3 separate regions of the Homo sapiens genome follow, and regions 1 and 3 are each linked to region 2. Evidence: fine-mapped expression QTL. A gene starts in region 2. Each other region holds a variant in brackets. All regions are shown on one strand. Distances are from middle to middle. Region 1 has its middle 100 kb from the start of LINC02012. Region 2 holds the start of NCBP2 (nuclear cap binding protein subunit 2). Region 3 overlaps SENP5 (SUMO specific peptidase 5).

Evidence for each region. PIP is the estimated chance that this variant, and not a neighbour inherited with it, causes the effect.
Region 1: its variant is fine-mapped to the expression of NCBP2 in monocytes after interferon gamma (Fairfax 2014, PIP 0.95).
Region 3: its variant is fine-mapped to the expression of NCBP2 in whole blood (INTERVAL, PIP 0.97).

Annotation. Positions count from the first base shown.
Region 1 is chr3:197,402,285-197,410,557 of GRCh38, reverse strand. No RefSeq gene overlaps it. Among named protein-coding and RNA genes, the nearest start is that of LINC02012, 100 kb to the left of the region's middle. RefSeq lists an enhancer at 1-865. The variant A/TTTTA (reference allele first, on the strand shown) is at 5,103.
Region 2 is chr3:196,937,563-196,945,835 of GRCh38, reverse strand. NCBP2 (nuclear cap binding protein subunit 2) reads left to right here and starts at 3,308. Exons shown (of 4, transcript NM_007362.5): 1 at 3,308-3,410; 2 at 6,404-6,585; 3 at 8,188-8,273. The coding sequence starts at 3,333. It overlaps NCBP2AS2 (NCBP2 antisense 2 (head to head)), which reads right to left and starts at 3,162. Exons shown (of 1, transcript NM_001355243.2): 1 at 2,293-3,162. The coding sequence starts at 3,119. The coding sequence ends at 2,820. It overlaps NCBP2-AS1 (NCBP2 antisense RNA 1), which reads right to left and starts at 5,959. Exons shown (of 3, transcript NR_046630.1): 1 at 5,709-5,959; 2 at 4,694-4,862; 3 at 3,302-3,443. RefSeq lists enhancers at 1,281-1,954, 2,705-2,864, 2,629-3,302, 3,085-3,384, 3,435-3,574 and 2 more.
Region 3 is chr3:196,903,505-196,911,504 of GRCh38, reverse strand. It overlaps SENP5 (SUMO specific peptidase 5), which reads right to left. Exons shown (of 10, transcript NM_152699.5): 6 at 7,895-7,972. Among named protein-coding and RNA genes, the nearest start is that of NCBP2-AS1, 32 kb to the left of the region's middle. The variant C/T (reference allele first, on the strand shown) is at 4,256.

The sequences.
Region 1 (8,273 bases), 460 kb before region 2:
TACTCTCTTCAAAGCTGTCAGAGAGGGACATTTAAGTCTGCAGAGGTTACTGCTGTCTTTTTGTTTGTCTGTGCCCTGCCCCCAGAGGTGGAGCCTACAGAGGCAGGCAAGCCTCCTTGAGCTGTGATGGGCTCCACCCAGATGGAGCTTCCCAGCCGCTTTGTTTACCTAATCAAACAACTAACTGGGCAATGGCGGGCGCCCCTCCCCCAGCCTTGCTGCCGCCTTGCAGTTTGATCTCGGACTGCTGTGCTAGCAATGAGCGAGACTCCATGGGCGTAGGACCTTCGGAGCCATGTGCGGGATATAATCTCCTGGTGTGCTGTTTTTTAAGCCTGTTGGAAAAGCGCAGTATTAGGGTGGGAGTGACCCGATTTTCCAGATGCTGTCTGTCACCCCTTTCTTTGACTACGAAAGGGAATTCCCTGACCCCTTGTGCTTCCTGGGTGAGGCGATGCCTCGCCCTGCTTTGGCTCGCACATGGTGCGCTGCACCCACTGTCCTGCACGTACTGTCTGGCGCTTCCCAGTGAGATGAACCCGGTACCTTAGTTGGAAATGCAGAAATCACCCGTCTTCTGTGTCGCTCACGCTGGGAGCTGTAGACCGGAGCTGTTCCTATTCAGCCATTCCTGCATTCTTTTAAAGCAATGAAGGTGTTGTAAGGATTGCAAATCAGACATCTCTATAAGAAGGACCATTTGGGGACACATGAATTTGGCAAACAAATTCAGGAAAGAAGGCTCTGCCTCAGCAGGGAAGGTGCAGACCTGTGGCAGCCAGGATGTCTCTTCTGGAGCATGGTTGGTGGGTCATGTCCAGTTACTATGCTGCCCTCAGGATTGGCCTAAGGTGTGAGTTTAGGAGGCGAGGGATATGGTGTGGTAGGATGACATTTTTGAGATGGACACTTCAGGTTGTCATGGAATCCGCAAGAACAAGATACCACAGTCTCCTGTGGTCTCAATATCAGTGTGAGGAGGTTGCGTCCTGGGCCTAATCTCAGCTGTCCCCATCCCGAGTACTGTCGTTAAACCATTGGCTTTTATTTTGGGTGCCCTCAATGGAGAGAATGAAGAATGGATCATGACCAGTTCCCACGTTCCAACAGCCTTAGCTCCACCAGAAACATGCCAAACTGGAAACTGGTTTGTCATGGGGATTGACAAAATGCTGATCAAACCCACAAGAGATGGCAAGATTATTCAATATAGACACTAGAGAGTTAGCATTGGAAGGACTCACTGGCCTTATAGAGGGGACCGTGAGCCAAGGGAAGCGACTTTCTCCATGTCACACACTAGTTAATGCCAAAGGTAGAATGAGAACCCAGAAACCCCAACTCTCAAATCAGTGCGCTTTCTACCACCCTTTGCTGTCAAATCTCAATGAGAACAAGAATGTGTGTATAAGATGTTCAATATATTCTCTTTTCAGAAAAGAAGGCTACTTGGGGAAATAACATCACTAATAGAAAGTTTTTGGAATGTGTAGAGGGCCAGTCCAGGGTATGTGCTGGAGAGAAATAGGTGAAGCTAAAATCAGAGTTGCAAGGAGCCACGCTGGGAAATCAACCCAGAGAGACACTTTGCTCCCCACAGTGGGAGTATAGAAGACTAGAACAGCTGGGACAGTCAATAGCTCCATGGATGGTCAAGGAAGGAAAGAAGTGGGGCTCCAAGAGGAACCTATGTCCCTGAATTAGACGTGTACTCTTCTGAGAAAGGACAGAGAAACCAACAGAGGGAAAAGTTAATCCCTGCTTAACTGTTCTTTGTTCCTGGACACAAGCTGAAGCAAGTAAGAAGAATTTCCATCCCACAACCCCCAGTGAGAAAGGGCTGGTCAGTTGATCCATTTAACCTACTGCCAGCCCGGAGAGGAGACCCGCAGGGAATTAAAGGGACACTGCCATTTTATGGGGCAAAAACCCCAGCTGCCAGAATGAAGCTGCAATTGTGTGGGTTCCCAGGTCAGTCCTGTGCCACCGTTGGGAGGAAAGATTCCCTTGATGCCAGACATGAGGCAGAGTTCCCAGGGGCTGTGGGTAGGATATGGCTGCTCCCTCCCTGACTCTCCAGAAAATTATAAGCAGGGAAACTTGAACTTGGGTCTTGAATACGCTCATTTTGTGTATCAGTGTAACCTGAGCACCTAGCAACCGCCAGGGCTTGGTGTCTGGTGACTTCCCCTTCAGCAGCTCTGCAGACTGCCAGAAAGAGCTGACTGCTCCAAGCCCAAGCCAAGCTTCCCTCTAGTTTAAATCAAAGAAAAATGGAGGGTGCCGAGAATGTAATGGGATAAAGGTCAACCCCAGGGCATAGCCCTCCACTCAACACGAGAACCAGAGTCATGTTTGACGAAATTCCCAAAAGACATTCTTCGGAACAAAGAAAATGAGCTAAGAAGATTTCTTAGAAAAGGATGCGTTTTATGTCAAAACAAGGGTGAGACCAGGTGCAGTGGCTCACACCTATAATCCCAGCACTTTGGGAGCCCAAGGCTGGTGGATCACCTGAGGTCAGGAGTTTGAAACCAACCTGGCCAACATGGTGAAACCCTGCCTCTCCTGAAAATACAAAAATTAGCTGGGCCTGGTGGGGCACACCTGTAATTCCAGCTACTCAGGGGCAGAGGCAGGAGAATTGCTTGAACCCAGGAGGTGGAGGTTGCAGTGAGCCAAGATCACACTACTGCACTCCAGCCTGGGCGACAGAGTGAGACTGTCTCAAAAAAAAAGAAAGAAAAAAGCCAGAGTGAGCTAGAGGTTACTGAAGTGGAGCACCAGGGAGCTGCCCAGGAGCCAAACAGTGCCCAGACCCTGGGGAGCCATCTGCCCCCACAGAGGGGGTGGGGGTCAACTCCCTGGTGACATCCTCTACTGAGGTTCCTTCCCCACCTCTTCACAGGGCAGGCTTCGGGCCCATTAGTTGCATTATAGAGACCGGGAATGGAAAACCAAATCTCTCCCTGTGTCCTTCATTCTGGCCTCTGTGCTGGGAAAAGCTCTTCCCACAACACCCTCTGTTCATTCCCAGATCCTGAACAACAGAGTTGAGAAGCAAGATTACGAAAAGGCACAGTTACCCCCTCACGGACTATCTGAGGCTGGACTTGAGCAGTTCTAGAGGCCCACACAAAGAGAGGACTAGCAGATAAAAGGACACGGTGCCGGCACGCCCACCACTGAGGAAGCAGTAGCAGGCACCAGTTTCTTTCCAAACACATCCTGGGTTGGAGAGGACTTGGTGGTGGCCCGAAGCCGTGAAGCTCTGCCCGAGGAGCTCCCAGAGCCCTCTGGGGATCGCACCTCGCTACCCGTCAGAGTGATGTATCGAGTATCCACTCTGTGCCTCCACAGGCAGGCCTCGGGAGGAAGCACAGTCCATGGGTACAGAATTACCTTCTCATGGGAAAATAGACAGTCAGTCAAAAATTACAGGCGCAGCGAGTGTTGTGAAGGAGGCGTGAGGGAGCAATGGGGGCGGCTCATGGAGCACTGAGGGTCTGGAAAGGCCTCCCCAAGGAAGTGACATAAACCCGAGACCTGAGGATGTAAGGGAATTAGACAAACAAATAGGGGAGATCGTGCGGACTTTGAATTGTCCCTCAAAGTCCATCTCCTCGGGCCAGGCATGGTGGCTCAAGCCTGTAATCCCAGCACTTTGGGAGGCCAAGGCGGGTAGATCACCTGAGATCAGGAGTTGGAGACCAGCCTGGCCAACATGGTGAAACACCGTCTGTACTAAAAATACAAAAATCAGCCAGGCGTGGTGGCAGTCGCCTATAATCCCAGCTACTCAGGAGGCTGAGGCAGAAGAATGCTTGAACCCAGGAGGTGGAGGTTGCAGTGAGCTGAGATCGCGCCACTGCACTCCAGCCTGGGCGACAGAGTGAGACTCCATCTAAAAAAAAAAAAAGTCCATTTCCTCTTCTTTCATAATCACAGAATTTTTAGTTGAGTATAGGCTTCCCAGAAAACAGCTGCATTTCCCAGCCTCTCTTAGAGGTGGATGTGACGCTGGACCCTAACAGGAAGAGGGAGGAAGCGTGTAGACAGTGCTGGGTTATGTGGACAGGGTTGCCCTCCCTCGGCCCCCCGCCCCTTCTGCTGGCTGGCATGTGGTCCTGGCAGGGAGCCATCTTGGAGCAGGCTAAGGAAGCCAGTAAGACAGAAGAAGCGGGGCTCTGATGACCTCACAGGCCAGAGCAGCCACACCAGCGTGGGGCTTCATGTGAGAGAAAAATAAATTCTATTTCGTTTAAGCCATTATTATTTTGGTCTCTGTTACAGAAACCAAAGCAGTGTCCTGACTAATACACAGTCTGAGGGAACAGCAAAGTGCTCCTGCAAATCTTCTTAACCGCATTTCATCTTCCCAAGAACCCAGTACGGAGGAGATTATTATCATTATTTTAGTGTTACAGAAACTGATGCTGAGAGGGATCGTTGTCTTGTCCAAGGTCACACAGTGGCAGAGCCCGGGACTCAGAACTCAAGGCTTCTTCATGCCAATCCAGGAGCATCCACGATGCTACGCCGCCTCCATTTCTCTAGGCTGGGTTTGGTTGCTTCCTCCGTTAGTGAGGTGAGTTTTTACCAAACCATCCACACTCTTTTTTTTTTTTTTTTTTGAGACGGAGTTTCGCTCTTGTTGCCCAGGCTGGAGTAGTGCAATGGCACGATCTTGGTTCACCGCAACCTCCGCCTCCCGGGTTCAAGAAATTCTCCTGCCTCAGCTTCCCGAGTAGCTGGGATTACAGGCGCGCACCACCACACCTGGCTAATTTTGTATTTTTAGTAGAGATGAGGTTTCTCCATGTTGGTCAGGCTGGTCTTGAACTCCCAACCTCAAGTGATCCGCCCGCCTCAGCCTCCCAAAGTGCTGGGATTACAGGAGTGAGCCACCGCACCCGGCCTCCATCCACACTCTTAACTTGATCCGCCACCCCCATGCCAGTCCACTCAGTGACACATGGTCCTAATGGCACATGCACCACGGACAGGAGGCTAATTTCCTGCATGAAGTGATGATTTAGGGGCAGGGATACAAGACGACTGGCACTTTCTCAGAAAATAGCTTACTTTTTTTTTTTTTTTTT[A/TTTTA]GCGAAGTCTCGTTCTTGTCCCCCAGGCTGGAGTGCAATGGCACGATGGTGCAATCTCGGCTCACTGCAACCTCCGCCTCCTGGGTTCAAATGATTCTCCTGCCTCAGCCTCCCAAGTAGCTGGGATTATAGGCGCCCGCCACCACACCCAGCTAATTTTTGTATTTTTAGTAGAGACAGGGTTTCACCATGTTGGCCAGGCTTATCTCGAACTCCTGACCTCAGTTGATCCGCCCACCTCGTAGGATTACAGGTGTGAGCCACCCCGCCCGGCCAATATTTTACACTTTATTCTAAAGGTAGTGTTTGGAAGAGTCCCATTCTCCCCCGTTCCCACCCCACCCCTGCCACTTTACCAGCCCCACTTTGTGCAAAGGATGCAGGAATTCTTGAAGACACCAGCACTCGGAGAGCCCTGGGGGCCGCAGCTCCTTCCTTAGTGCAAGTTTCTTCTCTCCTTATTTTGAGTCTAGGCTTCTTAGCGGGAGCAGCCTGGCTCCTCTGGGATCTCCCTGGGAAGCTGTGTCAGAACAGTTCTGTGATTTTATCTTTTGTCAGCCCTTTGACCGATTGCATATGGGAAATTGCAGGCTAAGCCATGTTCACACAAATCCTTAGCCCGTGTTCTCCTACTGAGGCGCTCCTCAAGTTATGAATCACCTCTGGGGTATAGCATTTGAAAAATTAAGGTCTTAAAATATTGATTTTATTCCTCACAGCCAGGAGATAGCTTTACACATGATTTGGTTGATTGGCCCATTGTGTGGCTCAGGTGCTTGTAACTTGCAAATTTAACAGAGCCTTTTGTCTGCAGAAGACTGAAGCAGCCAGGGAGACAGTGCTGCTCACACCCGGAATCCAAGCACTTGGGGAGGCCGACTAGCCTCAAGTGATCCTCCCACCTCAGCCTCCCAAAGTGCTGGAATTACAGGTGTGAGCCACCAACCGTGCAAGCCTAATCCATTTTCTAAAGTGCTGTAAGAACAATCTTCTAAAACGCAAAAAATCTGATTATCCTGGGAGTTTGGAATTCTTTCAATGGCTCCCTCATGGCCTCATCACGGTCAAGTCCAAATTCCTTAGCAGCCCTATAAGGCCCTTCCCGATCTGGCCCCACCTCCACCGCTCCCCCTCCCTCCACTCCCTGCTCTCCCCAGGTGCTATGCAGTACCTGCAAACGGCCTGTCCTCACCCTTCGGGCTCTGCCCCTGTTGCTCCCTCCACCTAGAATGGCCTTCCTTCATCTCCTTACCCGGACAGTTTCCTCGGGACCCCGTTCAGGCGTCTTCTCTTCCAAGTGGCTTTCCTGACCATCCCACCCTGCACAGCACCCTTGTCACCCTGTCAGAGTCACCTGCGGCCTCGTGATTTCCATGTGCATCTCCTCATCTAGTCGGGGAGCACCTTCAAGGCAGGAGCTGTGTCTCATTTGTCTTGACCTAGAGTCTGGCAGCACACCTGGCACAGAGTAGGTGCTCATTCAATGTTGGTTGAAACAGTGAGGCTCTGTGGAGCCCTAGGTGTCATGGTCGTTTCCTCCCAAGATTGCTGTCACTTCTATTTCACTAAGTTTTTGTATTGATAAAATATCAGGCAAGACTAATTTAATCCCATGAAAGCAGATACTTCATTTTTTTTCTGTGGGAGTGTTAATATATTAATTCATTTAGCCATCCATTCATCCGTCAGTCACTTCATTTAACGAATATGGGCCGGGCATGGTGGCTCACGCCTGTAATCCCTGCACTCTGGGAGGCTGAGGTGGGCGGATCACTTGAGGTCAGGAGTTGGAGACCAGCCTGGCCAACGTGGTGAAACCCCGTCTCCACTAAAAAATACAAAAATTAGCCAGGCATATGGTGGGCACTTGTAATCTCAGCTACTTGGGAGGCTGAGGCAGGAGAATCACTTGAACCCAGGAGGTGGAGGTTGCAGTGAGCCAAGATCATGCCGCTGCACTCCAGCCTGGGCAACAAGAGCGAATAAATAAATAAAATGAATCTAAGTAAATAAATAAATAAGAAATGCATCCTCTAGGCCAGACCCTGTGCTAAGCATTAGGGTTATAAAGCTAAATAAAACTCAGTCCCTGTCCTCAAAGAGCTGACAGTTCATTGGGAAACAGACACGCAGACATACCATGACAGAATGATGTGGCTGACATCACAGTGCATGAGGGAGGTGGTGGAGAAGGGAAGGTAATGGATGATCCCTCACAGTGGAGAAGGGAAGGTAACGAATGCTGGGTTAGGGGCCTGTCCTTTGAGGTTCTGCTACTCACATTCTCTCATGGCTCCTAGATTAGAATTGCCTATAGTTCTGTTCCCCCACTCCCATTACACTAAGAGTTCCTTGAGGACAGAGACTATGTTATCCACCTTCGTATTCATTCATTTATTCAACAAATATGTATTAAATGCCTACTGCACAGAAAGCCCTTTTAGGTGCTGTGGTTACCACATGAAGCAAGTTAGACTGACCTCTCTGCCTTCGTGGAGTTTACAAGGTGCCTGCCTCCGTGCTGGAAACATGGCAGGCTCTAGAGAGATATTTGTTAAAGGAATAAACAGTGGATTCAGAGGGATGTGAGTGTGGTCCTCAATCATCTGGAGAGCTGTGTGGGAAGAGGAACACACATGTTCAAGGATGTTTTAAAGGGCAGAGTGGGGCCAGTGCGGGGACATTGCATGGTGACTGGTCTGGGGAAATGAGGAAGAATTTCTGTTAGTAAAAGTTGTTCGATATTATGATATAGTGACAGTAAATGATAACACAGGCCAGGCACGGTGGCTTATGCCTATAATCCCAGACTTTGGGAGGCCAAGGTGGGTGGATCACCTGAGGTCAGGAGTTCGAGACCAACCTGACCAACATGGAGAAATCCCGTCTCTACTAAAAATACAAAATTAGCTGGGTGTGTTGGCGCATGCGTGTAATCCCAGCTACTCAGGAGGCTGAGGCAGGAGAATAGCTTGATCCTGGGGGAAGGAGTCTGTGGTGAGCTGAGATTGTGCCACTGCACTCCAGCCTGGGTAACAAGAGCGAAACTCCGTCTCAGAAAAAAAAAAAAAAAAAAGATAACACAGAGGCTTGTAGAAGAAATTTCTACAGTGAGTTCAAGGAGGTTAAGCCAAATGACCTACAGGTCCTTTCCAAATCTGGAATTTTATT
Region 2 (8,273 bases):
TTCCGATGGCTTCAAGCTTTCTAGATTGCATGATTAACTGTGCTGCCTAACTAGAAATGATCAGAGCTGGGTGTGGTGGCTCACACCAGTAATCCCAGCACTTTGGGAGGCGGAAGCAGGAGAACTGCTTGAGGCCAGGAGTTCAAGACCAGCCTGGGCAACAAAGTGCAATGCCATTTCAACCAAAAACAAAACAAAACAAAATTGTGGCTGGGCGCGGTGGCTCACACCTGTAACCCCAGCACTTTGGGAGGCCGAGGTGGGCAGATCACAAGGTCAGGAGATCGAGACCATCCTGGCCAACGTGGTGAAACTCCGTTTCTACTAAAATACAAAAAATTAGCCAGGCATGGTGGCACGCACCTGTAGTCCCAGCTGCTCAGGAGGATGAGGCAGGGGAATCACTTGAACCCGGGAGGTGGAGGTTGCAGTGAGCCGAGATCGCACCACTGCACTCCAGCCTGGTGACAGAGTAAGGCTCCGTCTCAAAAAAACAAAAAAAACAGAAAAAAAGTTTTTAATTAGCTGGGCATAGTGTCATGGGCCCGTAATCCCAGCTACTTGGGAGTCCCAGGGAGGAAGATCGCTTGGCCCAACGGGTCGAGGTTGCAGTGACAGCTAGTATTGTGCCACTGCACTCCAGCCTGGGCAAGAGTTAGGTCCTGTCTCAAAAAAAAAATCAGAAATTTAGCTAGGAGCTTCAAATGACAGGACATTTCTATATACAATGGATTTCCTAATCGCAGGTCTGCTAACTGGCTGGATCGTAGTCTGTCTGTATCCCTGACCCTCTAAAATGAGGGGTAGTGAAGGGGTGGGTTGCCCCTCCACACCTGTGGGTGTTTCTCGTTAGGTGGAAGGAGAGACTTGGAAAAGAAAGAGACACAAAGTATAGAGAAAGAAAAAAGGGAGCCCAGGGGGCCGGCATTCAGCAGACGAGGATCCCGCCGGCCTCTGAGTTCCCTTAGTATTTATTCATCATTCTTGGGTGTTTCTCGGAGAGGGGGATGTGTCAGGGTCATAAGATAATAGTGGAGAGAAGGTCAGCAGATAAACACGTGAACAAAGGTCTCTGTGTCATAGACAAGGTAAAGAACTAAGTGCTGTGCTTTAGATATGCATACACATAAACATCTCAATGCCTTACAGAGCAGTATTGCTGCCCCCATGTCCCACCTCCAGCCCTAAGGCGGTTTTCCCCTAACTCAGTAGATGGAACATACAATCGGGTTTTACACCATTGCCCAGGGACGGGCAGGAGACAGATGCCTTCCTCTTGTTTCAACGGCAAAGAGGCGTTCCTTCTTCTTTCACTAATCCTTCTCAGCACAGACCCTTTACGGGTGTCACGCTGTGAGGGACGGTCAGGTCTTTCCCTTCCCACGAGGCCATATTTCAGACTATCACATGGGGAGAAACCTTGGACAATACCTGGCTTTCCTAGGCAGAGGTCCCTGTGGGCTTCCGCAGTGTTTGTGTCCCTCGGTACTTGAGATTAGGGAGTGGTGATGACTCTTAACGAGCATGCTGCCTTCAAGCATCTGTTTAACAAAGCACATCTTGCACCGCCCTTAATCCATTTAACCCTGAGTGGACACAGCACATGTTTCAGAGAGCAGGGGGTTGGGGGTGGGGTTACAGATTAACAGCATCTCAAGGCAGAAGAATTTTTCTCAGTACAGAACAAAATGGAGTCTCCTATGTCTACTTCTTTCTACACAGACACAGTAACAATCTGATCTCTCTTTTCCCCACAGGATAGGAGTCCAGGTAACTTGTTCCATGGCAGGCAGTAGTCTTTTTTTTTTTTTTTTTTTTTTTTGAGAAAGGTTCTCGCTATGCTACCCAGGCTGGTCTCATCTCAGGCTCATGCGATCCTCCTGCCTCTGCAGTGGCTGGGATAAGACACAACTGCCACCAGGCCCTGCCCCTAGGCAGTAGTCTTAATGCCTGATGGTGGGGGGTTGGGGAAGGAAGGGGTTGAGTATCAGGGTAAATGCTGCAGAGCTGTGTTAAGGACTTAGGCCCTGGAGTCAAATGCCTCTGCTCACATCCCACTCTGCAAGACTTTGGGCAACTTAAGCAGCAGCCTCTGTTTCCATCGCAGTGGCTCTTGCCTATAATCCCAGCACTTTGGGAGGCTGAGGCGGGAGGATCACTTGCGCCCAAGAGTTCGAGACCACCCCATCTCTACAAAAAAATCCAAAAAGTAATCTGCTTCCTCATGTGAATGTCGTTGTAAGGAGTGAGATAACACATAGAGTGCAATGAGCAAGTCCCAGCACAGAAGACTCATTTCATAAAATACGTGTTTATTATTACCATAGGCCTACAGTCCCCGGTATTCTTAACACATCTTGCCTGAGAAGTATCACACTCATGCCTATCAACCAGCTCACACATTTAATCAAAGGAATTTGGCAGCTGTAGGGTTGTCTTTTCATCCATATCGTCCCTGGAATTAACTGTCCTGCTATACCAGTCAGATTGAGCAGCATCTGTCAAGAGTTTCAGTCCCACTTGCAGAGGAAAGGCTCTCTGGCTTCGGTCCGTGGCTCTCCGTAGGTGCCGTGTCTGGACCCAGCCTACCTTCATCTCTGTTAGGCTTAGGGCTGTCTCCACACTGTGTCTTGTCCAATCACAAGACTTCAACGGAGCGGGCGGTCTGGCCTAGGCTCTTATGCGTGGGATGTCTGCAGGCCAACAATCCCAGTCGGGATTCGAAGCCGCGCGCAGTGCCCGGAATGACCCCTCCACATTGATGCCACTGTAGAGCCCGGAAGGAAAAGCAAGCGGCCTCGGCCCCGCACAGCCCAGGATTAAATGTTTGCGCCAGGGCCCCTCTGGCTACCTGGTGGTGGCCCCGAGCGGCCTCGGAGGCCGCGGCGTAGCTCCTGGGTGAAGGCGTCTCTAAATCGCTCAGCGCGGCGGCACAGGGAGCCCACGGGCCCAGCCGCGAGGTCCTGCAGGCGGCGGGCCGCGTCCTGGCCCCGCAGCTGGGCCTGCAGCAGTGCGAAGGCCGTGAGCTGCGCCGCACGTCGGATAGGCCGCGACTCTGACAGACGTTCCACCAGCTGCGGGCTGTGCAGCAGGGCGGCCAGCAGCCGCCGCAGCACCATCTTCTCCAAGCGCCCGGAACCCGACCTCGCCGCCCTCGTCTTCCGCCCCGCGGCGCCCGACCCGGACGTCTATGCCCCCGCGCAGCTTGATGACGACACGCCGCCCTCGGATTGGGTCCAATGAGATGCTCGCCTCCGCGCGTTTCCGCTTCCGCCATCGCGGACGCAGCCTCGTGCCGGGAGTCGCCGCATTGTGGTCCGCTTCTCTGCACTATGTCGGGTGGCCTCCTGAAGGCGCTGCGCAGCGACTCCTACGTGGAGCTGAGCCAGTACCGGGACCAGCACTTCCGGGTGAGGGAGGCCGGGCCGCGAGACGGGAAGGCCCTGGGCAAGAACGCTGAGAAACGGTTTGCTCTTGTCTCATTGTGTCGCCTCCCATTCAGCTGAAATCCGCAAACGCCAAGTGGGGCCCCGGTGCCTGCTGGCGAGGCAGGGAATGGGTGCTGGAAGGGCGCTTGGATATCACTGAAGCCACTTGCTCTGGAAGACGGGGAACTGGAGGCTCGCTTATCCCATTCGCTCGCAGCCGCTCCCTGTACCCCAGCCAGTGCCGAGAGGTTTGAGCGGTGGTGGTGGTGGCGGCTCCCGTTTCCACGGTTGTGCCTCCGCAGACGACTACGTAGCAAGGGGGAGGGGTGCCCTTCTCTCTCCCAGAGTAGGCAGAGGCGCCTTCCTGATGCAGATGCGGGGCTTTTTGCTTTGTTTTTTAAATCGGCGAAGCAGTGCCCTTCGGCGATTCGGGCCCCTTCTCTGGGAGGATGGTGTTACGGAAGCTGTACGCGGTGCGTGGGAGACACAAGTGGAGTCCTCACTCCGCCCTCGGGGAAGCTTCGGAGTGGGGAGGTGGACCCGCCAAGCTCGGCACTTTGAGGGTGTTCGGATGTAAAGATCGGAGAATTGCTGGATTTCAGAAGAGGGAAATTTTTAGTCCGGACTATATCACAGTATATTTTGTGGAAAAAGGGGAGGCAGCAGATATTCAAAGTAGACTTTTCAGTATCAGCGGAGGTAGGGATGGAATACGGTTGGGGGTTGGCGGGGCGGGACTCATTAACCCAATTATTTAGTAAACGTTTATCGAGTGCTGTCGCCAAATCCTTGTGCTAAACCCTAGAGGGAGAGGGAAGACAGTTTCTGCGCTCTGCGAGCTCATAATCCCCTGTAGTGAGGATTCAGAAAAGGGAAAAATCCCCTTGTGACTGGGAAAGGAAGGGGCGCATATAGCAGAGGGTAAGTGTGGAGAATGTGTGAAATGTGTTACTAGAGTAGGGAAAGGGAAATTTTGTTTGACGCTAAATTAGGGAAGCTCTTAGATTTATTTAGTCAAGGCTGGGAACGGTGGCTCACGCCTGTAATCCCAGCACTTTGGGAGGCTGAGGCGGGTGGATCACGAGGTTAGGAGTTCAAGACTAGCCTGGCCAAGATGGTGAAACCCCGTCTTACTAAAAATACAAAAATTAGGCGGGCGTGGTGGCAGGCGCTTGTAATCCCAGCTATTCGGGAGGCTGAGGCAGGAGAATCGCTTGAACCGGGGAGGTGGAGGTTGCTGTGAGATCGCGCCACTGCACTCCAGCCTGGGCAACAGAGCGATATTCCTTCTCAAAAAAAAAAAATTTATTCAGTTAATGTATTTTATTTTTTGAGACAGAGTCTCGCTTTATTGCCTAGGCTGAAGTGCAGTGGCGCAATCACGGCTCACGCAGCCTCAACCTCCTGAGCCTAAGTGATCCTACCCACCTCAGCCTCCTGAGAAGCTGGGACCACAGGCTCGCGCCACCACATCCAGCTAATTTTTTGTAGAGACAGGGTCTCCCTGTGTTGCTCAGGCCAGTCTCGAACTCTGGGACTCAAGCGATCCACCTGCCTGGGGCTTCCCAAAGTGCTGGGATGCCTAAGTGCCAGGCATGATTTGCACTTCTACCACTTTTAGTTACTACTTTAGACAGTTCCACATCCTGACCATTTTGAACTTAAAGCATCCTGTGAGATGAAAACTGGAACCTTCTGACTTTGTCTATTATTCATCTCCTCAGTCTAAACCTGTAGCTTTTTTTAGATGCTAATGCCATACTGTCATGTGGAATTTCTAGCATTCTGTGAATGGAATCCATATTAATATACTTTAAGCACTTACACCACAGTTATCTTAAACTGTAGGCTATTTATTTGGATCTTACTTACATGTGTGAGAAAAGTAGAAAAAGAAGATGCCTCCTTTCCATGTTCACAAATCAGTAACAGCAGTAAAATGAAAGGAATTTACTTTCTCTAATGTCTCACTCCAAAGTTCCGAAAACCTCTTTTTAACATACAATGACTATTGTCCTGTGGACTTTTTTTTTTTGAGATAGAGTTTCACTCTTGTTGTCCAGGCTCAAGTGCAGTGGTGCAATCTCAGCTCCCTGCAACCTCCACCTCCCAGGTTCAAGCGATTCTCCTGCTTCAGCCTCCCGAGTAGCTGGGATTACAGGCGCCCGCTGCTACCATGCCCAGCTAATTTTTGTATTTTTAGTAGAGACAGGGTTTCATTCACTATGTTAGCCAGGCTGGTCTCAAACTCTTGACCTCAGGCGATCCACTCGCCTCAGCCTCCCAAAGTGCTGGGATTACAGGCATGAGCCACCGCGCCTGACCCCGATGAGCCATTTTGGACCCAGGGCTTTGTCTGTCAGGTGTGTTGGATGAAGCCCAGTTATATGCTTAAGTCTCTGGCTTCATCCTGTCATCCCAATTTGGAAGCCCATTAAGAAAGTGAGCTCTGTTTTGTTTTTAGTGATCACTACATTTTCCCCTAAACTCAGAGAAAGATCTATGAGCACGTAAAGCATCAAGGTTGTGGCTTTCAACAGTCTCTAGGGGGTTATTAAAGAGGAACTCTCTCTCTCTCTGAAAACCCACTTATTTTTCACTACGAAGGATAAAAGGGCCCTTTGTCATATATTGGGTCAAGGTCCAGAGTCTACACTTGGGTTTAAAGGATGCACTGCTGAGGATATGGTGTGTGCAGGGAAAAGGGAAGCCGCTTGCGTGGCAGTCGGGCGTAGAAGTGACTTTGTTGTATGTGGTATAACTTTTGAGCCCTGTCTCTACTAAGAGTCTGGACTTCGCATAAGTGCTTCACAGAAGGTCGACATCCCCCTTTTTGGGCAAGGGATTTCTGGTAGGCTGGGATGAGAGAAGTTGATTTCCAAACCAGAATTAATGAATGTCTCTACCGTACTTAGAAATACTATTTAAGCAAGGCTCTGAAGTTGCTTAACTTTTGTCTCTATTTGAAATTCTAGGGTGACAATGAAGAACAAGAAAAATTACTGAAGAAAAGCTGTACGTTATATGTTGGAAATCTTTCTTTTTACACAACTGAAGAACAAATCTATGAACTCTTCAGCAAAAGTGGTGACATAAAGAAAATCATTATGGGTCTGGATAAAATGAAGAAAACAGCATGTGGATTCTGTTTTGTGGAGTATCCTTCCCATGGATCTAATGTAGCTGCTGAACCAGGGTAGAGCTGAGAGTGGTAGCTCATAAGCGTCCCTGCACTCGTCCCTACGTTTTCCTTCATCTCCCTCCTACTTTCCACCCAGTGTGTCTCTGCCCTTATACTGTAAAGCTGATACTATTTATATTCTCTTCTGAAATCCATGCTTTATGGTTCTTTAACAAAAAGTTTTTCAAGAATGTTTGCCCTTCACGTAAAAAAAAAAAAATTCCAAAGAATGTAGTGAAAATATAAAAATCTCGTACTGTTCTAAACCCCTAATGCCCTTTGCCAGAGGCAGTCAGTTACCAGTTTCTTGGGCGTCTTTCAAGAAGTAACCCTGTGGGTGTGCGGTAGTGTATTTCATGTGCTGTTTTTAAAATCATTTTTTTATTTTTTATTGTTCCATTTCAGCATATGTAGGTCTTTTTTTAAAATAGCTGTACAGCTGGGCATGGTGGCTGGTGTTTGTAGTGCCAGCTGCTCAGGAAGCTGAGGCAGGAGGATCAGTTGAGCCCAAGATTTCAAGGCTGCACTGAGTTGTGACTGTGTTCCAGCGGGGGTGACGGGTTAAGACCCCATCTTTAAAGAAAAAAACTTTTAAGTAAATAGCTGTATAGTATTTCATTATATAGATGTATATAACCTGACTGTATAGGTACAAACCAAAACTATTTACTTTGATCATTTAATTCCCTTACTCAGACTCTTTTAAGTATTGGACCTCTTGGATTTATCCTATGTTCTTTTTACTGTATGTTTTGGTCATTCAATTTAATATTCTGAGAAATTTTGCAGGCCCAATTTAATATATCTTTTGAATTTTTTCCTGTGCCCTGAATTATGTTTGTTTCGGTTGAAATTTTTCCTTAAGTGTCTGGTGATCCCTGGATTTCTGCTCATAATTAAGGAAAAGAATGCTGACTCACTGGACCCAGGCAGGGCTTCTCTCCCAGATTGCAGGCTTGCCTCGGGGATACACAGGTTTCCCAAATGCTAGAATGAAAAGAGATTTTATTTTGGCTTGCTAACATCAAAGATACTAGTTTCTCCAGATGGTTTATTCAGAACACTGTTGTCTTATTTTTATTTGTCTGAGATTAAATGTCTTCCCCTTTAATTAAAGGGAGGTCTCTGATGAAGTAGGTTTGGGAACTGCTACCTTGGTGACAGCTTGAGTCTTTCCTTTAGTGAAGTGCAGCACAATTCCACGTGCACGGTGACCTTCTCTTGATTAGGGTGCCTTGGAATGTACAGAACCTAACTTGAATATACAGCACTGGTTTCTTGGATAAGAAGTGTACAGTGATCTAAACTTGCAAACCAAAATACAGAGATGATGGGACCAAAAATTATCAACAGGAATGTCCAAGAAATATGATCAGTGTAGCCATGGATACGTGTCATATTTGACTCTATGTGCTTCCAAACCAATCGCAAACAGGCCTGGGCAAGCTGAATTACTGTCTTTGAACTCCATCTGGTTGGATTAGCTCTTGTACTTTTTAACAACTCAGCTTCATTTACATGTTGTTCCCCTATTTCCAGAAATGTTTGGAAAAATGCTAGTGTTCCTTAATACTTAAGATATTACTCACGCGCAGATGCGGAAAACGCCATGCGGTACATAAATGGGACGCGTCTGGATGACCGAATCATTCGCACAGACTGGG
Region 3 (8,000 bases), 34 kb after region 2:
GCTCACTGCAACTTCCACTTCCCAGGTCAAGCAATTCTCCTGTCTCAGCCTCTCGAGTAGCTGAGACTACAGACATAAATGTCTTCTTTTGCGAAGTGTCTGTTCATATCCTTTGCCCACTTTCTGATGGTTTATTTTTCTTGTAAATCTGCTTAAGTTCCTTGTAGATTCTGGATATTAGATCTTTGTCAGGTGGGTAGACTGCAAAAATTTTATCCAATTCTATAGGTTGCCTGTTCACTCTGATGATAGTTTCTTTTGCTGAGCAGAAACTCTTTAGTTTAATTAGAATCCATGTTGGCTTTTGCTGCAATTGCTTTTGGTGTTTTTGTCATGAAGTCTTTGCCCACGCCTATGTCCTGAATGGTACTGCCTAGGTTTTCTTCTAGGGTTTTTACGATTTTGTGTTTTACAATTAAGTCTTTAATTCATCTTGAGTTAATTTTTGTATAAGGTGTAAGGAAGGGGTCCAGTTTCAGTTTTCTGCATATGGCTAGCCAGTTTTCCCAGCATCATTTATTAAATAGGGAATCCTTTCCCCATTGCTTTTGTCGGGTTTGTCAATGATGAGATGGTTGTGTATGTGTGGTGTTATTTCTGAGGTCTCTGTTCTGTTCCATTGGTCTATATGCCTGTTTTGGTACCAATACCACGTTGTTTTGGCTACTGTAGCCTTGTAGTATAGTTTGAAGTTAGGTATGTGATGCCTACAGCTTTGTTCTTTTTGCTTAGGATTGTCTTGGCTATACAGGCTCTTTTTTGTTTCCATATGAATTTTAAAGTAGTTTTTTCTAATTCTGTGAAGAATGCCAATGGTAGTTTGATGGGAATAGCATTAAATCTATTAATTACTTTGGGCAGCCAGGAGTGGTGGCTCACATCTATAATCCCAGCACTCTGGAAGGCCGAGGCAGGCGGATCACGAGGTCAGGACATCGAGACCATCCTGGCTAACACGGCGAAACCCTGTGTCTACTAAAAATACAAAAAATTAGCTGGGCATGGTGGTGCATGCCTGTAGTCCCACCTACTCGGGAGGCTGAGGCAGGAGAATTGCTTGAACCCGGGAAGTGGAGGTTGCAGTGAGCCACGATCATGCCACTGCATTCCAGCCTGGGCAATGGAGCGAGACTCCATCTCAAAAAAAAAAAAAAAAAAAAAAAAAAAAAGATTACTTTGGGCAGTATGGCCATTTTCAAGATACTGGTTCTTCCTATCCACGAGGATGGAATATTTTTCCATTTGTTTGTGTCCTCTCTTACTTCCTTGAGCAGTGGTTTGTAGTTCTCCTTGAAGAGGTCCTTCACATCCCTTATAAACTGTATTCCTAGGTATTTTATTCTCTTTGTAGCAATTGTGAATGGGGGTTCATTCATGATTTGGCTCTCTGCTTGTCCATTGCTGGCGTATAGGAATGCTTGTGATTTCTGCACATTGATTTTGTATCCTGAGACTTTGCTAAAGTTTCTTATCAACGTAAGGGGTTTTGGGGCTGAGACGATGGCATTTTCTAAATATAGAATCATGCCATCTGCAAGAGACAATTTGACTTCCTCTCTTTCTATCTGAATACCCTGTATTTCTTTCTCTTGCCTGATTGCCCTGGCCAGAACTTCCAATATTATGTTGAATAGAAGTGATGGGAGAGGGCATCCTTGTCTTGTGCCAGTTTTCAAAGGGAATGTTTCCAGCTTTTGCCCACTGATATTGGCTATGGGTTTGTCATAAATAGCTCTTATTATTGAGATATGTTTGATGAATACCTAGTTTATTGAGAGTTTTTAAATGAAGGGATGCTGAATTTTATCGAAGGTCTTTTCTGCATCTACTGAAATAATCATGTGGTTTTCGTCACTGGTTCTGTTTATATGACGGATTATGTTTACTGATTTGCATATGTTGAATCAGCCTTGCATCCCAGGGATGAAGCCAACTTGATCATGGTGGATAAGCTTTTTGATGTGCTGCTGGATTTGGTTTGCCAGCATTTTATTGAGAATTTTTCGCACCGATGTTCATCAGGGATATTGGCCTGAAATTTTCTTTTTTTGTGTCTCTGCCAGGTTTTGGTATCAGGATGATGCCGGCCTCATAAAATGAGCTAGGGAGGAGTTCCTCCTTTTCAATTGTTATGAAATAGTTTCAGAAGGAATGGTATCAGCTCCTCTTTGTACCTCTGGTAGAATTTGGCTGTGAATCCATCTGGTCCTGGGCTTTTTGTGGTTGGTAGGCTATTAATTACTGCCTCAATTTCAGAATTTGTTATTGGTCTATTCAGACATTCCACTTCTTCCTGATTTAGTCTTGGGAAGGTGTATGTGTCCAGGAATTTATCCGTTTCTTCTAGATTTTCTAGTTTATTTGTGTAGAGGTCTTTATAGTATTCTCTGATAGTAATTTGTATATTTCTGTGGGGTCAATGGTGATATCCCCTTTATCATTTTTTATTGTGTCTATTTGATTCTTCTCTCTTTTCTTCTTTAGTTTAGCTAGAGGTATTTTTTGTTAATTTTTTCAAAAAATCCAGCTCCTGGATTCACTGATTTTTTGAAGGGTTTTTTTGTGTTTCTATCTCCTTCAGTTCTGCTCTGATCTTAGTTATTTCTTGTTTTCTGCTAGCTTTTGGATTTGTTTGCTCTTGCTTCTCTATTTCCTTGTTGTTGTTTTTGTTTGTTTGTTTTGAGACAGAGTTTCACTCTTCTTGCCCAGGCTGGAGTGCAATGGCGCAATCTCAGCTCACCACAACCTCCACCTCCCGGGTTCAAGTGATTCTCCTACCTCGGCCTCCCAAGTAGCTGGGATTACAGGCATGTGCCACCACACCCAGCCAATTTTGTATTTTTAGTAGAGATGGGGTTTCTCCATGTTGGTCAGGCTCATCTCAAACTCCTGACCTCAGGTGATCTACCCGCCTCAGCCTCCCAAAGTGCTGGGATTACAGGCATGAGTCACCACGCCCAGCCGCTTCTCTAGTTCTTTTAATTGTGATGTCAGGATGTTGATCTGAGATCTTTCCAGCTTTTCGATGTGGGCATTTAGTGCTATAAACTTCCCTCTTAACACTGCTTTAGCTGTGTCCCAGAGATTCTGGTACATTGTCTCTCTGTTCTCATTGGTTTCAAAGAACTTCTTGATTTCTGCCTTAATTTCTTTATTTACCCAGGAGTTATTCAGGAACAGGTTGTTTAACTTTCCTGTAGTTGCCTTTTTTATTTGTTTTAAATTGAGACAAGGTCTCAGTCTGTCACCCAGGCAGGAGTGCAGTGGCGTGATCAGGGTTCACTGCAGCCTCGACCTCCCAGGCTCAAGTGATCCTCCCACCGCAGCCTTCTGGATAACTGGGACCACAGGCTGCCACCATGGCCAGCTAAGTTTTTTAAATTTTTTATAGAAACGGGGTCTCGCTTGGTTGCCTAGGCTGATTTGAAACTCTTGGGCTCAAGCAATCCTCCCATCTACAGTAATTTTAGGCCTCCCAAAGTGTTCAGACTGCAGATGTGAGACACAGCGCCCAGCCTCTTTAAATGTCACTTCATTTTCAACCTTTCTTTTTCATATTATTTTATGTATACTTCTTATATTCAGCATAAACCTGGGTTTTTTTTTTTTTTACTTAACCCAATCTCAGAGGATCTACAGCAAGCTTGTCCAGTCCACAGCCCACGGGCAGCATGCAGCCCAGGACGGCTCTGAATGCAGCCGAACACAAATTTGTAGACTTTCTTTTATGAGATCTTTTTTGCAATTTTTTTTGTTTTAGCTCATCAGCTATTGTTAGTGTTGGTGTATTTTATGTGTGGCCCAAGACAACTCTTCTTCTTCCAGTGAGGCTCAGGGAAGCCAAAAGATTGGACACCCCTGATCTAGAGGAAGGAATAATTTAGTTTATTATTTAATGAAACAACTCACATATTTGACTTTATTCTTTCACTCTCATGTTTATCATTCAGATACTTTTCCATGAATGTATATTTTTTGCCCACACTGCTTGTAATTTTTCCCACCCCAAATGGAATATAAGCATCTTCCATTATCTTTTTTTTTTTTTTTTGAGACGGAGTCTCTCTGTCGCCCAGGCTGGAGTGCAGTGGTGCGATCTTGGCTCACTGCAAGCTCCGCCTCCTGGGTTCAGTCTCCTGAGTAAGTGGGACTACAGGCATCCGTCACCACGCCCGGCTAATTTTTTTGTATTTTTAATAGAGATGGGGTTTCACCGTGTTAGCCAGGATGGTCTCTATCTCCTGACCTCGTGATC[C/T]GCCTGCCTCGGCCCCTCAAAGTGCTGGGATTACTGATGTGAGCCACTGTGCCCGGCCCATCGTTCATTATCTACACAGCTTTTCCTGCTTAAGTAGCATCCAATTATATGACTGTACATTTTAAATTTGAACAATCCTCTACTAGTTGTCCTACATTTTTCTAATGTAAATACAACCATAGGCCGTCCAGTCATACAAGTCACATACTTGGAAGTCATCTTTCACACTTCCTTGTCCTTCATCTCCATAACCAACTTATCACCAAATCCTGTTAATTTTACTTCCTACATCACACTCATCTTCCATCTCTCCTGCTATCATTCTACTTCAAAGTACCATGAATCTGAAATGGTCTCCTGTTCTGCCCACATCAACTTTGCTCCCATACCCATCCATCTTCTTCAGTACTGTTAGAACAAAGACTACAAAGTGGATAATGTCACTAAAAACCATTCAATGGTTTCCTATTACATTTAGGATAAAATCCAAAATACAAACCTCAAGGCCCTGATCTGTGGATCAGGTACACTTCATGCCACTGTCTTCTTAACTCTCTGCATTTCAGCTACACTAGCCTTTTCCCATTCTTCTACCAGATACTTATTCCTTCTGCCTATGTTTCACATACCCCTATTCTCCATTTACCTAGTTAACTTGTATTCATCTTTGATATTTCTGCTTAAATATTACTTCCTATGAGAAACATTCCCTTACCCTCAGGCTAGGTTAACCAAACCTGCATTCCAATACACTCCTGTAGTACTTTTCTTTTGTACCCACTAAACAAATAATTACACCACCAAAAATATAAATACAAACTGTGGTAGGTGCTGTCTCCACCACTAGACTGCAGACTTTGTGAAAGCAAAAACTGTCTCTAATATTGTTTTACTTACCTCTTTATTTCTTGATTTACTATAATGTCTGGCACTATGATACTGTAAAATAATAAATTTGGTCTTTGACCTCATTTCCTGGCATACAACTCCCTAAAGTCCTTGGAATTTCTGATGTCTTTTTTTCTTTTTTTTTAGAAAGTCTTGCTCTGTCACCCAGGCTGGAGTGCAGTGGTGCAATCTCGGCTCACAGCAACCTCCACCTCCTGGGTTCAAACGATTCTCCTGTCTCAGCCTCCCAAGTAGCTGGGACTACAGGCACATGCCACCATACCCAGCTAATTTTTGTATTTTCAGTAGAGACAGGGTTCCACCATGTTGGCCAGGCTGATCTTGAACTCCTGACCTCAAGTGATCTGCCTGCCTCAGACTTCCAAAGTGCTGGGATTACGGGGACATGACCCAGGCCCAAAGTGATGTCTTTTTGTATGTTGATGATTAACTGATGGCTGGCAGCTGCTAGGTGGCTTTAGGATAAGAGCAAGGCAGAATTAGAGGATTGTGACTTTCAGCCCCACCCAACCCCCCAACCACCAGGGAGAGAAGAGAAGCTAAAGGTTAACCAATGGTCACTGGTTTAGTCAATCGCCTATGTAATGAAGCCTCCATAAAAACTGACTGCACTGGGAGAGCTTCTGGATACTAAATATGTGGAGGTTCCTGGAGGGTGATGTGCCTGTGGAGGTCCTAGAGAATCCCTGTGCCCACTCCCCTACATCTCTTCCCATGCATCTCTTCATCTGAATCCTTTGTAATATCCTATATAATAAACTGCTAAATGTAGGTAAGAACTTCCCAGAATTCTGTGAACCGCTCCGGCAAATTAATCAAATTCAAGGAGGGCGGCATGGGAACCCTCACTTGAAGTCTGTTGGTCAGAAGTTTCAGAAGCCTGGACTTGCAACTGGTGTCTGAAGTGGGTGGGGGGCACTCTTGAGGCATGAGCCCTCAAACTATGGGACGTGGCACTGTCTCCAGGTAGACAGGTCGGAATTGAATTAGAGGGCATCCAGCCAGTGGTCGCTGCAGAACTGCTTGCTTGCTTGCTTTGGTCACAGAAGTCTTCTGTGCTGACTACTGTTGTGGTGTGACAGCAAAGGAAAAAAGTTTTTCCATATAGGCACATAACAGGTACTCAATAAATGTTTAATGCCGGGCACGGTGGCTTACCCTGTAATCCCAACACTTTGGGAGGCTGAGGCGGGCAGATCACCTGCCTGAGGTCAGGAGTTAGAGACCAGCCTGGCCAACATAGTGAAATCCCGTCTCTATTAAAAATACAAGAATTAGCCGGGTACGGTGGCAGGTGACTGTAATCCCAGCTGCACAGGAGGCTGAAGCAGGAGAATCGCTTGAACCCAGGAGGCAGAGGTTGCAGTGAGCGAAGATAGCGCCTGAAAGACTCCATCTCAAAAAATAAATCAATAAATAAATGATGAATGAATGAATCAATGTTGCTAAGGACAATCCTATCTATCATTTACACACACACTCATACACACTCCTTGCCTGCTGCTTAAACCCTCTAATGTCTTCATTTTTATTTTTTATTTAATTTTCTTTTGACATGGAGTCTCGCTCTGTCACCAAGGCTGGAGTGCAATAGTGCAATCTCGGCTCACTGCAACCTCCACCTCCCATGTTCAAGCGATTCTCCCACCTCAGCCTCCCAAGTAGCTGGGGTTACAGGCGCCCACCATCACAGCCCGGCTAATTTTTGCATTTTCAGTAGAGATAGGGTTTCGCCACATTGGCCAGGCTGATCTCAAACTCCTGACCTTCAGTGATCCGCCCACCTCAGCCTCCCAAAGTGCTGGGATTACAGGCGTGAGCCACCGCACCTGGCCTAAACTCTCTAATGTCTTCAAATTGCCCTCATGATCCAAACTCTTTACCAGGGCCTATATGGCGCCACATGACTTGATCCCTGCCTCCTTCCCTGATCTCATGTGTGTAATACTCCAATATACCAAACTCACTTCTGCTTCAGGGCCTTTAACATTCACTCTTCCATCTACTGGGAATGCTCCTCTGATCTTCACAGTTTTCAGTGAAATGGGATCTCTTCAAAGAGGCCTTTGCTGACAAGCCTATCTAAAAGAACTAGCCCATCTTCCTCCTGCTACCCTATCCCAGTTACCTTGTATTCTCATACTGTGTTCTGATGTTTCCATAGCAAATAGCACTTACCACTCTCTGACTAGAGTACATCATACATAGTAAATTAGGTACATGGTTTTTGGAAATTATTTCAATTACATGTATGTATAAGATTTTATGAATAGATTGTGATATAAAAGTTATTTCTCCTGATGGATCAGTTAACATTTTAAGAGACAGGATCTGGCTATGTTGCCCAAGCTGGCCTCAAATGCTTGTGCTCAAGTGATCCTCTGGTCTCAGCATCCCAAGTAGCTGGGACAACAGGTGCGAGGCACCGTGCCCAGCACCAGCAAAAAATTGTTGAAAGCTTCTGCTGTCTGCTGACAAGCCTACCAGATAACACCAAATGATGGCAGCTCCTTCTTTATCATCCCACTGTTCTACCACTATAATTGGGACCAGTAGGCAATTAAGGTCTTTCAAACAATAAGATTTAAAAGAAACAAATTTAAAACTTGTCACATTAAAAAGTCTGTTTCTACTTAACATCGTATTGGCATTAAAGTACTTATCCTTCCACACAAAGTGGTTTATCATCTGCGTTTCAAATTTGGAATAAAAAAGAAATAAAGAGAATACCTTTTTAGTCCATCTTTTTACTCCATTATATCCTTTGGTTACCAGCTGTCTATGAAAAAAGCTGTTGAAGAAGTGAACCTAGAACAGACAACAAACACAAGCAACC